Linked DNA regions of Homo sapiens. The protein of the gene in region 2 interacts with the protein of the main gene of each other region in a pairwise test. Each region holds a gene or a part of one and is shown on either strand. Other genes may lie near its edges. The genes, in order: NUP54, PKNOX2 and BMP2K.

Region 1 (3,654 bases), on a different chromosome or scaffold from region 2:
AACTCTCACTACTGACCCTGAGGTCATTTATGCATTAAAAAAACTGCACTGATCTAGTTATACTGGTCCCAAAGGCATTATACTCTGCCATAAACCATGCCATGTTATTTCCTCTGCGTGGATACCCTAGAATCTCCTTGACTATGAGCAAGGATTGTGGTCTTCAACCTTGTACACCCAATGCCTGACATACGATATATACAATAAATGGATATTACATAACAAAATGAGCCCCTTTCAATTTTAAAATAGCACCAGATTCAAATTCCCATTTTCCTAAAAAAACCAAATGTAACTACAGTTACTCATAGTTGGAGAGACTTTATTTCAAGAAACAAAGGAAACACTTCACTTTTGCTGTTCTTTCCTTAACTACTTAAATATTTCATCAAATTTTGTATTTTTGCAGGATTGTAGAAAAGACGAATGACTGGAATACTTGAAAGAATAATTCTGAGAATACTATTCTATTATCTTCATCCTACTGTTAGGCAATCCTTGAAATTCATGTTTAATAAGTTAATAACTAATCTTCAGTGACTGAGTAGGATGAATTTTAGCTAGTCAATCAAGTTACTTAAAAAAATGAAACAGAAGTAATTTTAAGAGGCATCAGATTGGAAAAGTGAAAAGAGCACTAGAATGAGTAGTTGAATTTGCATCCCTGTACTTCTTCTAGAGAGGTATACAGGTAAGTCACAATCTCTCAGGTTCCTCTCTTCACCCATAAAATGGGGATAACAAAAGTATTATTTCACAGGGTTCTTGTGAGAATAAGTTAATCCATACAGAACAACCCCTGGAACCTACTGCCATACCACCTAGTAAGGATGGTTAGTAAGGAAGCCATCAAAGACTAATAACCAGACTGTCTCAAAGGGACTTGGGAGCCAACTTGAAAAGGCTTGCACTGGCCAAAGATGTAACAATTTAAGCATCAATAAGAATGGTAACTGCAATGGATTAAAAAATAGTAACTAGTTTAAAGGCTGCAGTTTCTGACATTAAAAAAAAATTGGTCATCTTTGGAGAATGCTAGATAACCAACTCTTTATTCTGAAAACCAGTAATAAAGAGAAAGAATCAACCAAACAGATGAAGTCAAGTTTCTCCTCACAGAAGTATTTCAACAAATAAATGAATCCAGGTGGAATGGCACTATTTGTAACCCCTAATGAATTAATGGATCTAGGTAATGATCACCAATGGCTCAATGGCTGATCACTCAAAAAAAAAAGATATTATATGTCTTCTGATAAAAAATAGGCCTATAAAATAGTCTTGCAAACAAACAACAAAACAACAAAATATATATATGTACGCCCCAGATCTAACCCAATCATCAAGAAATACAGAGAACAAAGGAATGTGTTAAACTATACCATAGGCGTGCAATCAGAAAAGTCTTGACTAAAAAACTCTATAGGATAAATGATCTGTTTTCTTCAACAAATTAAAAAATAAAAAAGAGAGGCCAGGCGCGGTGGCGCACACCTGTAATCCCAGCACTTTGGGAGGCCGAGGCAGGCAGATCACGAGGTCAGGAGTTCCAGACCAGCCTGGCCAATATGGTAAAACTCCGTCTCTACTAAAAATACAAAAATTAGCTGGGCGTGGTGGTGTGCGCCTGTAGTCCCAGCTACTCAGGAGGCTGAGGCAGAAGTATCGCTTGAACCTGGGAGGCGGAGGTTGCAGTGAGCCGAGGTCGTGCCACTGCACTCCAGCCTGGGCGACAGAGCAAGACTCCGTCTCAAAAAATAAAAAATAAATAAAAAAGAGAGATAAAAGAGGAGCCTATGGAGATTTAAGACAGGCAAAACCAAATACTGTTTACATACTTGAATGACAAAATATAAAGTAAGAAAATGATCACCATAAAAGCCAAGACTGCAGGTCCTCTGATGGGGAAGCAATTGGTAGGGAAATGTGGTAGGCTTCTGAACTGGCTGGCCAGGAACCATCTCCTGACATGGGCAGTGATTACAAGGGTGTTAACCTTTGTAAACTTATATATAATTCATTAAGCTGTACTTTTGTGCAGTTTCTCTATTTGTTATTTTTAACAACAAAAATTTAAATGGAATGATCCTAAACACAGGGACCTTATAATCCTAACTGTGCCAATCAGTGTTCTCCCCAGTTGCTATCATATTTAAACATGAAAAGTAACATTCCTAATCCTTTGGAATATATTAATAATTCTTATAAAAAGTCCACTAAAGTATTCTGAATGCACTCAATAATGTCAGCTAGTATCATCACGGTTTTGTATTTGAAGCTGAAAACCTCATACTTACTAGTTTGCTGCTGCTGCTGTGTATTAAATCCTCCAAATCCCAGTCCAGTTCCCAAACCAGTACCTAAACCAGTACTAGTTCCCGTTGTTGTGCCAAAACCAGTACCAAATCCAAAACCTTTGTTCTGAGTACCACCAAAGAGTCCTTTGAATGAAAAATTGGAACTTCGTAAGTTAAAAAAAAAAAAAAATCTGACCTCTACTTCATTTACTTCTATGAATGACTTAAGATGGCCTCTTACCAGTAGTGCCTGTGTTAGTTGGGGCAGAAAAGCTGAATGCAGAACCTGCAGTTGTAGATGTTGTCCCAAATCCTCCAAACCCACCTAATTAAAAAAGAACAAAAATAGAAAGGAAGAATCTTTTGTATATATAAAGGCAACTTCTTTTTAAAATTATTTTATAATTGCTACATATAAAATCAAAATATATTGATCTAATTTTTCCTTTCCCTACTTTCAAGATCAATTTTTTAAAAAACTATACTACCAATCAAGAAGTCAAAATGTTACAAGAAATGAACTAAGCATTTAAAATAGAAATATCACAATGTAATATATACCCTTCAATTAAAGGGGTGGTTAACAGTTACAGCTGAGAAAACACATTAAGCCTATTGCCATAATTCTAAAATGACTATGTATGTACTTTTAGAGGAGGTGTTGCAAATTCATATGCCTAGAAGATTTAGACTGATAACAGTAAAGAGTAAAGTAGACTATGTGTTTACTGATAGGTGGAACTGTTTAAAATGAATAGTTTTTTAGATCAGCAGTTCCTAAATTCCAGCAGATACAAGAAAGGTAGTTTAGCAGTGTCACATATTCCCATTTTTTACCCCAAGAGAAACAGGAAATCTGGATTTTCTATGTAAAATTTATTGGTTTTTGGCTGGGCGCGGTGGCTCATGCCTGTAATCCCAGCACTTTGGGAGGCCGAGGGGGGTGGATCACAAGGTCAGGAGATCGAGACCATCCTGGCTAACACGGTGAAACCCCGTGTCTACTAAAAATACAAAAAATTAGCCGGGCGTGGCGGCGGGCGCCTGTAGTCCCAGCTACTCAGGAGGCTGAGGCAGGAGAATGGCGTGGACCCGGGAGGTGGAGCTTGCAGTGAGCCAAGATCTTGCCACTGTACTCCAGCCCGGGCGACAGGGTGAGACTCCGTCTCAAAAAAAAAAAAAAAAAAAAAATTTATTGGTTTTTAAACCCTAATTCAACTACTTTTTTTTGCAAGGAATTCAAATGTTTTGAAAACAGCATGCCAAACATATCACATTGGCAGACTTGTTGCCAGTTAGCAACCTTGGTTTTGGTGAATTAATTTATGTCTAAATTAACTTATATTTCTACTTAGTC
Region 2 (3,654 bases):
AAGTCTATAGATTGCTTTAAGTTAATGAAAGTGCTGCTTTCAAAAGGGGCTTTTATTGTGTGGCAGTGGCAAATCCAGTACCTCCCCTTTACTCTTCCAAAATGGGCCTGTTTAAAAAGAGGGAGCTTGCTGGATCCCACATGGCAGAGCTTGGGGGAGGGTGCCATGTGACAATGAGAATTAATAAAAGTTAATGTCCAAGTGATTCTGAAAGACGAGTTTGCTTCTTTTCCAGTCCGGTTTCATCTGTTCATTCTCGTGTTGCCTTTGGGCTTTCACTGAGTCTGCCTTTAAATGTTGCTTGGTGCCTCCCCAGCAGCCTCTCCCAGCATTGCTTTAGGTAGGCCTGACCCCTGTTCAGTTAAACCCAAACTGGATTTCAGGATTTCAGCCCAGCTGCCAATTCAAACTGCAACTAAAATATTTACTTGGGACTGGGGGAGGGGCTTTGCCTCGCGTTTAGTAAGATAAATGTGTTTAAATGCCTGGGAACCTTGAGAAGGAACAAGGCAGGCTGTTTTTCAGTGCTTTTTGCTTTTTCAATCTGTTTGGCACAAAAGGTGAGATGACAAGGTTTTTGACTAGGTCCTAACACAGAAACTGCAGTGGGCTCAGGCTGTGGCTTTGACCGCATGTCATAACCATTTAAACTGTGGTTAGTTGTTCAAAGCTCAAAGCTTCTCCAAGCTGGGTTTCATTAACTCTACACCAGTTGCCTGGAAGTTCAGTAGCAATAAATTGTATAAACACATTTGAAGTAAGTTAGTGATGAAATAAGTAGAATTACTGTCTTGTGAGTGGAGAATCCTGAATTCATGGAGTTCTAGCTTAACTGGAAACATACCTCCTCTCCCTTGGCCTTGAAGTTTATGGGTGCACCAGAGTGTGTGTTAAATTTCTTTCTGCCATGTCCATCTTCAACCTGGGCTGTAACTCATTAGAGACCAAGGCATGCCTAGAAAGCAAAACGGCTGGATTTTAAAGGGGTCTCTATTAGCTTGGTTTAGGAATCAAACCAAACCAATTGACCTGACTTCTTTACCTTCCGTGAATCCAACGTGCAACGTAAACAGCAGCAGAGCAGGGGAAAATTAGATGTTTAAATGTTAGAGGCTTAATAATACTGCGTTGTTAGCAATTGAATTTGTTTTTATTAAAGAAACAACCAATAAAATTTATAGGCTTCCAACATGTTGCAAGATTTCCTTGCTATTTATTTAGCTTCCCCCTCCCTACTTTCTGAAATTCTATCTCTAATCTCAGGCTTTTGTTCCCGATTTATTTAATCTGGAGCACATTTTCTAAATTAGTTCGAGGAGGGTGAGAAAGGCTGTTATGAGTTTTCCTTTTTCCTACGCTGTGTGGCACAAGGACTGCGATGCTGTAAGATATATATAAACGTGTGATGCAATTGCTGGAGGTGACGGCATGTGAAGCCAAGTGTCTGGATCAAACAAAACGCAGATCCGAGCATGGAGAGGGTGAAAACGATGCTGCAGAGGAAAAACTGAGGAAGTTCTAATGGAAAATGAAATCATCATGAACCACCGTTAGCCTGAGTCTAGCCAACACACCATGCTTTGTATAAAACACTTCACGTGAGATCCGTGACTTATTGAAGACTGAATTATACTGAGAAGCAGAATTTAGAGGGAGGAGCTCCACGGGCTGGGTTCTATCCAGGCAGCATGGCCAGGATTGTTGCGATGGGGATCTGCTAATTTAATTAAATCTAATACCTGGTGGGAAAGGGAGGAAGGAGGGAGGGAAGTGGTGGGCAGATAATCAAGGTTGGCAGGTCAGCATGCTGAGCTAGTGTTTAGGCTGAAATTTAGTGGCCTGGTCTCTTTTGACTCTGTTATTGCCAGGGCTGCATGACTCCAGTGGGTCATCTAGCTTCTGGGCCTTGGTTTCTTCATCTGTAAAGTGGAATGTATCACACACAGTTCTCACTAGGGTGAGATGATGGGCTTGGATCAAGCACAGGCTGCGCTCTGAGTAAAAAAAATGGGAGATAGAGGCTTCTCAGCAGCAAAGTCACATTCTTCGGTGTGTTTTCTTTCCTCGCCTGGCTCCAGGGCCTTCCCCACAACTCTCAGGAGTTCTTAGGCTATAGTAAAGGGGCTGAATTCCTGCCTTGCATTACATCCTAGAATTTGAAAGGCCTGCTGTGACTCCAAAAACCATCTACACTTTACCAAGAGGGGCAATTTTGGCTGAGTTGGGGGATCCAGCCCGCTTCTTCCAAATGGTGTTACCTGGAATAGCTGTCCTGTATCAGACGAATGCAGAATCTGACTTATCAGAAATGCAGCCCCTTCTCTTTATTCCACTGGGAAGGCAAGGCCTGAGCCCTGACTGGTGTGTGTGTGACATCTGGTCGGCTGAGGGGGTTGGGTGCTGGTCTGCAGCTAGCCACGGCCTGAACCTCTCTTAGCAGTCTCTGCTGGCAGATCAAAGCAGATTCTGGGCCAGAAAGCCCAAGAAGTTACACCCGGCACTTACACAAAACTGTGTGTGCGCTCGTAGACTCCTTCTGTTCCGGTGTCTGATTTGTAAAAGCTAGCTCTGATCCTGGAGACGCGGCTCTGGTGGAATGCTTGTCTTTAATACTCCCTAGTCTTTGGGGATTCCTTGGGGTAATTTTTCCTCCTCATTTCCTTCTCAGCCAATCACAGGCAACATCTTAGTCTCCATTTTGATTGGGGGTGGGAGACAGGGCTGGGGGTTGAGAGAGCAACAGTTGGAGGGCACAGTCTTTCTACCTGAACTCCAGGTTTTCCTCCCGTCCAGAACCCCCAGGAGAGAGGGAGAAGCAAGCCCGGGACAGCTCAGTTCATCTCACGCGGTCAAGCAGAGCTTGAGAAGAGCTTGCTGCAAATGCGTTGTCTTCAAGGGGATCTGCTGTTTGGCTTGGATGCCTCACTGCAGGCCCGGCCTGCCTGGGTTTCTAATTACAAGAAGGACGTTTCTGCTAAGACCTATCTCACTAAAAACACATCCCTGTGTGTAATAAGAAACCCTAAACCAGGCAGGATATTTTAAAACTGAAGCAATGAAGATTAGATTAAGTCTCCACCAAACAGCTTCGTTCTTGTATTATTTTTGGCTGGAATGTGGAGAAAAGCAGCTGGCCCTGGGGCCCAGAGCAGACTCTGGAGAGTTCGGATAGGGCCGGGGTGGGTGGGGTAACTGTTAGTTTTCTGCTTAGTAGGAACGTGGCCAATTTGAGTACGGCTCAGTCAAGGCAGTGGGGGTGCCCAGTGGGGGAGGGGGGAGGCTGGGGTGGAGGAGGAGCCAGATCCAGATGGGCCAGAAAGCGGCCACAGAAGCAGCAGGTCACAGGGCACTGAGGCTTGTAAATCCTCCACCTCATTAGGACGTAGTCTTTTGTGTTCAATTTACATCTCTACTCACATCGCCATCCCAAATCTAGTAGAGAGGGAACAAATAGTTGTTGAGGATTCTTGGAAATAGAACCCAGTAATCGGGCATCATGGGCAGGTGTCCTGCCTTGCTGGGGAGGGGCAGCATGGCATTCACCCATTCCCTTTGTTCTTCCATTCAGCAAATATTTATAGAGCATCTTCTGTGTCCCCGGCACAGTCCTAGGCATTGAGGAGACAGCAGCAAAAACAAAGCCAAGACATTGCC
Region 3 (3,654 bases), on a different chromosome or scaffold from region 2:
ATTAAAATTTGTGTGTGGGTACATAGTAGGTATATACATTTATGGGGTACATGAGATATGTTGATACAGGTATACAGTGCATAATAATCACATCAGGGTAAATGGGTTTCTATCACGCCACTCATTCTTTTCTTTCTGTTAATGGTGCTGCCATCCACCAAGAGTTTTCAATCTCTATTTTTTCTACTTTGACCCACCCTGCCACCACTGTCATGTCATCTAGGCCACCAAAATCTCTAACTTGCATTACTATAATTTCCTTTTGCCTGAACTCCCCTTCTTACCTTCCCTTAGTCTTTTTTTTTTTTTTTTTTTTTTTTGAGACAGTTCGCTCTTTGGCCCAGACTGGAGTGCAGTGGTGCGATCTTGGCTCACTGCAACCTCTGTCTTCCAGTTTCAAGCGATTCTCCTGGCTCAGCTGGCACCTGCCAACATGCCTGGCTAATTTTTCTATTTTTAGTAGAGATGGGGTTTCACCATGTTGGCCAGGCTGGTCTCAAACTCCTGACCTCGTGATCCACCCGCCTTGGCCTCCCAAAGTGCTGGGATTACAGGGGTGAGCCACCGCACCCAGCCCCCTTAGTGTTTTTCTATAGAGCAGTCATTTTTTTTTATGTAAACCTAATCATGACACCTATTTTAATAATAGCTTTCCATTATACATGGAATTTTGAATTAGATGTATAATGAAATATACGCTGCTTATCATGGCCTTAGAGGACCTTCACAGTCTGGCCTTTTCCAGTCTTCCTTACCTCATGTTGTACCTGATCCTCCCTTGCTCACTATATTCCAGCCACAATAGCCTATTTTCAGCCCCTTAAATATGTCTTTATATATGCCATTGCTTTTATTGGAAGCTGCTTCCAGCTTATCCTTTGCATGGCTGGGCTCCTTCTCATTGTTCAATCCTAACTGTCGTCTCCTTAGGGAGGTCTTCACCACTGTCCAAAGTAGGTTTATGCGCCCATTTCCCTGCTGTCCTTTATTTCAGAGCACTAGTCACAATTTATGTTTACTTACAACCTCTGACTGTAAACCCCTGAAAGCAGAAACCATGTTTCTTTTACTCACCAATGTATAATCAGTGTATAGCAAAGTGCCCTATATTTCTTTCGTTGAATGAACTCAGAAAATGAAGTGACTGAATGGATTCTGAGCTAAAAACATCTCCAGATGGTTTAGATTTGTTTTTAAAGGAATCTCGCTTTTTTAATGTAATGTATAGATATTATAATTAAAGGAAGTCATATCATCTAGAGAAGGCAGATGTTTTTGGTACAGTCTCCATTTAGTATCTGGTCCTTAGCTTTGGTGAGGCCATTCATGCTAAGTCAATTCAAAAGATAGTGGTTTATAAAAAATACAATGCTGATTTAAAAAAATAGTGAAACAAATACGTAACTGAGCAGGCAGGCTGTTCATGCTTGTTGATCTCTATGGGAAAACTTTACAAGAGTTGAAATATAAGCAGGAGGTATTTGGTGAATGTGAAATCTGAGCTTTCAGAATTAGCAGAATAATGTTATTTTGGTGGTGGGGTGAAGAAAATTTGCTAGTCTACTACATTCTGTGTGCTATAAATAAAATTTGGCTGTCAGTGAGAGTACGATGAGGCAGGGTGTAGGGTCCAGATATGAATAAGTCTGTCTACATTAAGACTTAACTATCTACCTGAGGTCAAATGCATTCTCTAAGTCTAATGACGAAGAATTGACAACATTATTTTTTCCTCTAAGGGAACTCGTATGAGGGATTTGTAATGCCATGTGTAATACATATTAACATTTAGTGCAAGAGGATTCTGAAATGCATTGGAATGCTGTAATAATATTTATTTGAACTTGCAGGTTCTCCTGAAAAGAAAGCTGAACATTCATCTATAAATCAAGAAAATGGCACTGCAAACCCTATCAAGAACGGTAAAACAAGTCCAGCATCTAAAGATCAGCGGACTGGAAAGAAAACCTCAGTACAGGGTCAAGTGCAAAAGGGGAATGATGAATCTGAAAGTGATTTTGAATCAGATCCCCCTTCTCCTAAGAGCAGTGAAGAGGAAGAGCAAGATGATGAAGAAGTTCTTCAGGGGGAACAAGGAGATTTTAATGATGATGATACTGAACCAGAAAATCTGGGTCATAGGCCTCTCCTCATGGATTCTGAAGATGAGGAAGAAGAGGAGAAACATAGCTCTGATTCTGATTATGAGCAGGCTAAAGCAAAGTACAGTGACATGAGCTCTGTCTACAGAGACAGATCTGGCAGTGGACCAACCCAAGATCTTAATACAATACTCCTCACCTCAGCCCAATTATCCTCTGATGTTGCAGTGGAGACTCCCAAACAGGAGTTTGATGTATTTGGCGCTGTCCCCTTCTTTGCAGTGCGTGCTCAACAGCCCCAGCAAGAAAAGAATGAAAAGAACCTCCCTCAACACAGGTTTCCTGCTGCAGGACTGGAGCAGGAGGAATTTGATGTATTCACAAAGGCGCCTTTTAGCAAGAAGGTGAATGTACAAGAATGCCATGCAGTGGGGCCTGAGGCACATACTATCCCTGGTTATCCCAAAAGTGTAGATGTATTTGGCTCCACTCCATTTCAGCCCTTCCTCACATCAACAAGTAAAAGTGAAAGCAATGAGGACCTTTTTGGGCTTGTGCCCTTTGATGAAATAACGGGGAGCCAGCAGCAAAAAGTCAAACAGCGCAGCTTACAGAAACTGTCCTCTCGCCAAAGGCGCACAAAGCAGGATATGTCCAAAAGTAATGGGAAGCGGCATCATGGCACGCCAACTAGCACAAAGAAGACTTTGAAGCCTACCTATCGCACTCCAGAGAGGGCTCGCAGGCACAAAAAAGTGGGCCGCCGAGACTCTCAAAGTAGCAATGAATTTTTAACCATCTCAGACTCCAAGGAGAACATTAGTGTTGCACTGACTGATGGGAAAGATAGGGGGAATGTCTTACAACCTGAGGAGAGCCTGTTGGACCCCTTCGGTGCCAAGCCCTTCCATTCTCCAGACCTGTCATGGCACCCTCCACATCAGGGCCTGAGCGACATCCGTGCTGATCACAATACTGTCCTGCCAGGGCGGCCAAGACAAAATTCACTACATGGGTCATTCCATAGTGCAGATGTATTGAAAATGGATGATTTTGGTGCCGTGCCCTTTACAGAACTTGTGGTGCAAAGCATCACTCCACATCAGTCCCAACAGTCCCAACCAGTCGAATTAGACCCATTTGGTGCTGCTCCATTTCCTTCTAAACAGTAGATACTTCTGATGGATTCTCGGCATTAACTCCTGTTTCAAAAAAGTGTGAACAGTTTTATGAATTTGAAAGAAAATTTGGTAGCTCTTTATAGCATTCATTCTTAAAGATCAGTCAGAATAGGTGATTTCTAAATAAACCAAATAGAAGAATGAAGTATCTCTACAGGGTAGTAACTTGATTCCTCTTCAGGAGAAAAGGGAGCTAAATTGCAAGCTCTAACTAAGGGTTTCTGCTACTGACATCACAACACAGAAATGCAAGTGTGGTACTTCCAGTGAAAGCACATGGCACCTTTCTAGGTGTGTAGCCACTGAGAAGGGACAGTGAAACTGTTATTTTTGATATCAGAATGTCATTTTTATGTGCATATCCCTAAAAT

What was found.
Region 1: the proteins of PKNOX2 (region 2) and NUP54 interact in binary tests that used the Homo sapiens proteins (3 or more experiments, as listed by UniProt).
Region 3: the proteins of PKNOX2 (region 2) and BMP2K interact in a two-hybrid assay, tested with the Homo sapiens proteins (one large-scale study listed by IntAct).

The regions. Positions count from the first base shown.
Region 1 is NC_000004.12:76,141,852-76,145,505, forward strand, and holds part of NUP54 (nucleoporin p54), read right to left. Parts: intron 2,623-3,654; coding exon 2,539-2,622; intron 2,442-2,538; coding exon 2,298-2,441; intron 1-2,297. UniProt on the Homo sapiens protein: Component of the nuclear pore complex, a complex required for the trafficking across the nuclear membrane.
Region 2 is NC_000011.10:125,167,698-125,171,351, forward strand, and holds part of PKNOX2 (homeobox protein PKNOX2), read left to right. Parts: intron 1-3,654.
Region 3 is NC_000004.12:78,908,760-78,912,413, forward strand, and holds part of BMP2K (BMP-2-inducible protein kinase), read left to right. Parts: intron 1-1,850; coding exon 1,851-3,274; 3' UTR 3,275-3,654. UniProt on the Homo sapiens protein: May be involved in osteoblast differentiation.